Linked DNA regions of Homo sapiens: region 2 is linked to region 1. Evidence: fine-mapped expression QTL. A gene starts in region 1. The other region holds a variant in brackets. All regions are shown on one strand. Distances are from middle to middle.

Region 1 (2,912 bases):
TCCCGGTCTAGAATCTCTTCCACAGCGCCCGGGCTCTGAGCTGAGAAAAGAGAGGGGCTGAAGGGTTGCATCCATCGGTGAGCACGGCCCCTGACCCCTCTCACTCCAACCACATCTGGGTGAGTCAGAAATCTAGGGGGCCCTAACCAAGGTTCCAGCAGGTGAATCTTGCACATGAGACAGGCTGCATAAAGGACGATGTGTGTAAGGGCCTGTCATGTGAACACATGTCCTGTGTACACATCAAGGTGGGGATGGGCAAGCACCCACAATGGGTTCGGTCCAACCAGCACCTTCTGAGACTGTGTAGCAAAAACTGGACCCAGCCCTGGGGTGCTAGTATGATGTGACACTTGCATCCAGGGAGGTCACCATCTGTGTATGTGGAGCCCATTCTTATAGAAAAAGAGTAAACTCTGCTAAGAGCATAGAAAAGACTTGGGAAAAGTACCCAGCAAGGCAGCAGAAAGGCTCCTGCAGAGACGACCTTTGAGCTAGGTCCTGAAGAGGTGGCAAGGAACCAGGACAGAACATTGGGAAGGCCCTTTACCGCACAGAAAATGGCTGAGCAAAGTTCCCAATTTCCCCGAGACGGGAGCTGAGGTCGACCAGGAGCGGGATCCTTGGTCTGCATCCCGCATGGGGCTTCCTGCAACACCCAGGGCAGAGTGCTCGCAGAGGCCTGGCCTGTGACAGGCTGGGCCAGGGGATAAGGAAGTTCTGTCACATCAGGTGCGTGAGAACCACCTCCTCCCTAGCTTCAGTGTCAGGAAGGGATGCCAGCGTCCTTCCAGCCACTTCATATTTATAAATTCCTTTAATCATCATAACACCTCACAGAGACAGGCATCAATATCCCACTTTGCAGACAAGAACACGGGCTCCAGGAGGGGAAATGGGGCCACCGAGGCCAAAGTAAGAGTCCTGCTTGGACACCAGCGGAGCACAGCCTCTACTCCTAGGGCCTGGCCTCGGGACCTGTCGAATGCCGACTCCCGCTCACCCCGAACCCATGCAGAACGATCTCACAGGGGGCGGCGGGGAGTGGGGAGACCCCGCTGCTGCGCGACCCCTCGCTGGAGCTGCTGGGCCGCCACGCGCGCCTTCGGTCCTAACGGCAGTGCCGGCCGAAACCCGGCCCTGCTCGGACCCGGAAGGATCCGAATCCGCCCCCCTGACAGGGTCCTCTCGGCCGAGGTCACCCCAGCTGGGCCAGAGGCAGGCGCACGCGGCTCTACAGGCAGCGGCGTCGGTTTCGGCCCGGCCCTGCCCCCAACGGCTCCGCTCTCCCGCGCTCACCCCGAGCCCAGTCCGCCATCGTGCCCTGCCCCGGCTCCTCGACGCGGACACCGACGCGGCCACAGCCGCCTCAGACGTGGCGCAGTCGCGGGGAAAGAGCTTCCGGCCCCGCCCCCAGCTAGCGATGGCCCCGCCTCCGCACCGACCACGCCCCTAGATAGCCCAGCCCCTTCCGCTTCGGGCTCGCTGACTTCCGGCTTAGGGCCGAGGGTGGGGAACTGCCGGGCGCGGAAGCGATGGGCATATCTGTGGCTTATTTTCAGCACTGTCGCGCAGACAGTGGCGCGATCTCAGCTCACTGCAGCCCCCGCCTGCCGGGCTCCCAAGGTGCTGGGATTACAGCAGCACCGCGGATGTGACGTTTGGTGTTCCTGTGAACGTGGGGCGGGGCGGGGCCGTTTGCTTGCTCAGTGCCTAGACGATGGTGGTGGAAAGACGCTTCTGTGGGTTAGGTCCTAACGGTTAGGAAGGATTCACAGGCGGGTCATGAGGAAGGAGCAGACCCCTCGGGCAGAAGCCCGCGAGGAGCACTGGGTGTGGTGGGGGCAGGGGTGCCTCCTCTGTCAAGTGGAGATCGGCGCCTCGCTCGTGCCTGCGAGTGCGCGCCGCGTCGAATACAGCCGTACAGAACGCACTACAGGAAAGTGAAGCCGGGAGAGAGACTGGGAGGCGGCGCGGGGACTGGGGGCCGTAGACGCCTTTGCTCCCGGGCACTTGTTAGAAGAGCGAGTGGATCGCGCTTCCTGTGCGTCACTGAATCCTCATGACGGCCACTGAAACGGACACGCAGGATCTTTGCTTTTCAAGAGGGAACTGAGTCCAGGCCAGACTGGGTTGCTCCCCTTTCTCTCGGCCCCTCCACCTTTGCAAGTGCTGCTCCTTCTGCCTGGAGTGGCTCCTCCAGTCTTTTCCCGGCTCACTTCCCACCGTCCGGTGTCAGCAAAAACAGCACTTCCTCACAGCCCGTTGCAGCCCAGCAGTCGCCTTTTGCTTCTTTTGAAGCACAGCCCTGTGACCGCCTCGTGTCCTTTTGTTTTTCCTTGTCCCCCTTCCCCTCTGGAACATAAGCTCCACAAAGGCAGGGACCTGGGAATCCCGTTCGCCTGCATTCCCCAGCAAACGCCTAACGAACCCAATGGCCCAGGACTGAAAATTCCTTTCCACTTCGGCTTTCCCCTCTACATCCCATCGGTTCTGTGGAGCTCGAGGGGCGTCACTGTGTGTGTGGCAGGGCACGGTGGGGGCTGAGATCGTTTCCTGTTGGAACTTCTGGCCCAAGAAGCGCGGGTCACAAGGAGAGGGGTCAGTTCGGTTCAGAGCGACTCAGCCCCTCGACTCGGGTCTTAAAACCTCCGAGCCGCCAGTTCTGCCTCAGGCCGCGCCCCCTTAAAGCGCCACCAGACGCTGCGCCCCGTTAAAGCGCCACCAGACGCCGCGCCCCGTCCCGGCCTCCCCCGCGCGCTGGCGCGGGGCTTTCTGGGCCAGGGCGGGGCCGGCGAACTGCGGCCCGGAACGGCTGAGGAAGGGCCCGTCCCGCCTTCCCCGGCGCGCCATGGAGCCCCGGGCGGTTGCAGAAGCCGTGGAGACGGGTGAGGAGGATGTGATTATGGAAG
Region 2 (2,912 bases), 20 kb before region 1:
CGATACAACAGAAGCAAATATTTGCCACTGGAAAAAATATTCAAAGACACTCTTAGGTTAATCTATAGCTGATGACAGTCAGTCTAGTCTACATAGCAAGCAGCTTCAAGATATGATTACTTAGCTAAGAGGGAAATGGGACGTGACTGCTGCCTCATTCCCACGCCTCTCTGGACCTGATAATTTAGAGGAAGCTCACATTCGCAAGATAAAAATTTTCTTTTCTTTCTCAGTATTAAATATGCTGTCACAGTAGAAGAAAGCTTTACTGACTTCTTAAATGATGTGTTGAGACCGGAAACCTAAAATGATAGTTACTGAGAATACTGCTAATGCCCTAAGACCGGAACCCTAAAATGATAGTTACTGAGAATAGTGCTAATGCCCTAAGACCGGAACCCTAAAATGGTAGTTACTGAGAATACTGCTAATGCCCTAAGACCGGAACCCTAAAATGATAGTTACTGAGAATAGTGCTAATGCCCTAACACCGGAACCCTAAAATGATAGTTACTGAGAATACCGCTAATGCCGTAAGACCGGAAACCTAAAATGATAGTCACTGAGAATACTGCTAATGCCCTAAGACCAGAACCCTAAAATGATAGTTACTGAGAATAGTGCTAATGCCCTAAGACCGGAACCCTAAAATGATAGTCACTGAGAATACTGCTAATGCCCTAAGACTGGAACCCTAAAATGATAGTTACTGAGAATACCGCTAATGCCCTAAGACCGGAACCCTAAAATGATAGTTACTGAGAATACCGCTAATGCCCTAAGACCGGAACCCTAAAATGATAGTTACTGAGAATAGTGCTAATGCCCTAAGACCGGAACCCTAAAATGATAGTTACTGAGAATACCGCTAATGCCCTAAGACCGGAACCCTAAAATGATAGTTACTGAGAATACCGCTAATGCCCTAAGACCGGAACCCTAAAATGATAGTTACTGAGAATACCGCTAATGTCCTAAGACCGGAACCCTAAAATGATAGTCACTGAGAATAGTGCTAATGCCCTAAGACCGGAACCCTAAAATGATAGTTACTGAGAATAGTGCTAATGCCCTAAGACCGGAAACCTAAAATGATAGTTACTGAGAATACCGCTAATGCCCTAAGGTTTTAGTCACACCCTCACCTAGGCAGGAACCCAACCAAAAGGGGAGAACTGTGGAACAAACTACGGGAGGTCATTGTTTCGGTCACCACTCCCGCACTAGGCCACACTGAGCAGGCAAAATCAGAATGGAGACACTCACGCTGAATGACACACAACGAAGCTGAAACTCTAAGGAAGTAGATAGATCCCAAAAGAGCTCCCTTTTTCCCTGAAGAGATTCCAGTCTACCTGAGTCAGCATAAAGAAGTCCCCTCTGCTTTAATTCTTACCAAAACAAGTAACTTGAAGTAATCTGATATTAACAAATCAGTTGTTATTTTCTATTGCTCTATTTCCGC[C/T]TTACACAACACAGTGTTCTGCTATTGCCCAGAGGGCACTGAGACCAAATAAAACTTGAAAATGCCACACTGAAAGCAAATAAGTCCTAATAACTCAATTTACAACGACAACAAAGAGTGACACCAATGCCCAAAGTTTTGATCAATATCTCAAAATTGAGAGGCTGACCAAAAGGGAGGAATTCTTACATCAAACAACATTTGGGCTCTGGAAGCCTCCCGAGGAGTCCTTGTAAAGAGTCGCGGCCGGGCGCCGTGGCTCACGCCTGTAATCCCAGCACTTTGGGAGGCCGAGACGGGTGGCTCATGAGGTCAGGAAATCGAGACCATCATGGCTTACAAGGTGAAACCCAGTCTCTACTAAAAAAAAAAAATACAAAAAAATTAGCCGGGCTTGGTGGCGGCAGCCTGCAGTCCCAGCTACTCGGGAGGCCGGGACAGGAGAATGGCGTGAACCTGGGAGGCGGAGCTTGCTGTGAGCTGAGATCGCGCCACTGCACTCCAGCCTGGGCGACAGAGCGAGACTCCGCCTCAAAAAAGAAAAAAGAAGAAGAACAAGAAGAATCGCAACCTAATTTAGTATAGAAACAAACTGAAAATCTGACTTGGGAATGTATCATGGTAACAAATAGCGGCGGTTCAGCCAATCACATCAGCCGAGTGTCAGTCAATGGCCGGCAGCCAGCTGTTCAAAACAAGTTCCAAGAAGGCAAATCCGGGCTGTAACCAGGTCTGTAACCAATCCAGCCACCTCTATACCTCACTTCTGTTTTCTGTATGTCACTTTTTTCCTCTGGCTATAAATATAACCCGCACATGTTGTGTGGCAGATCATTCTGAACCATTTTTGGTCTGGACTGCTGCCTGATTCTAGAACCACAAAAAAAAGCCAATTAAGATCTGCAAACCCACATTTGTTGTAATTCTGTATTTTAACAGTTGTGCCCTACAAAAGACATTAAGCTGAAATTAATTAAAAATCATTTACGGTCATGATTAGGTCATAAAAAATTGTCAAACATAACAATTCTTCAAAAAAAGCTAAAAAGTATATTTTAAAAATATTGTTGATGGAAAAAAGAGTGCAAAAGTAGATAGGAAAATTATGTACAAAACTAAAAACAGAGGAGAAATTAAAAGTCAAATAATTGCATCAAACTGGAAACCTAGAAAAAATGGGTGATTTCCTAGTAAAAATACACATTAACAAAATGGGCCCTGAAATAAGGCAACTATGAATATACCAATTAGCATAGAAAAGCTAAGAAAGGTCCTTAAAGATCTCCCAGTGGAAAAAGGCCCCAGGACCATCTGGGTCCATAGCTTAGTGTAAGCTGACTTAACTAAATGTGATTTTACACTCGTGCATTGCATACATATGATGGTGGTCCCATGACATAAAAATGGAGCTGAAAAATTCCTTCCTAGCCATCTTGTCATAAGCTCA

The links. PIP is the estimated chance that this variant, and not a neighbour inherited with it, causes the effect.
Region 2: its variant is fine-mapped to the expression of BET1L in cerebral cortex (GTEx, PIP above 0.99).

What each region holds. Positions count from the first base shown.
Region 1 is chr11:206,004-208,915 of GRCh38, forward strand. BET1L (Bet1 golgi vesicular membrane trafficking protein like) reads right to left here and starts at 1,396. Exons shown (of 4, transcript NM_001098787.2): 1 at 1,300-1,396; 2 at 1-40. The coding sequence starts at 1,318. It overlaps RIC8A (RIC8 guanine nucleotide exchange factor A), which reads left to right and starts at 1,705. Exons shown (of 10, transcript NM_001286134.2): 1 at 1,705-2,912. The coding sequence starts at 2,852. RefSeq lists enhancers at 1-311, 622-1,123, 1,670-2,291, 2,147-2,316, 2,292-2,911 and silencers at 1,068-1,127, 1,238-1,357, 2,419-2,617, 2,618-2,907.
Region 2 is chr11:185,917-188,828 of GRCh38, forward strand. It overlaps a transcript of SCGB1C1 not described here. Among named protein-coding and RNA genes, the nearest start is that of SCGB1C1, 5.7 kb to the right of the region's middle. The variant C/T (reference allele first, on the strand shown) is at 1,466.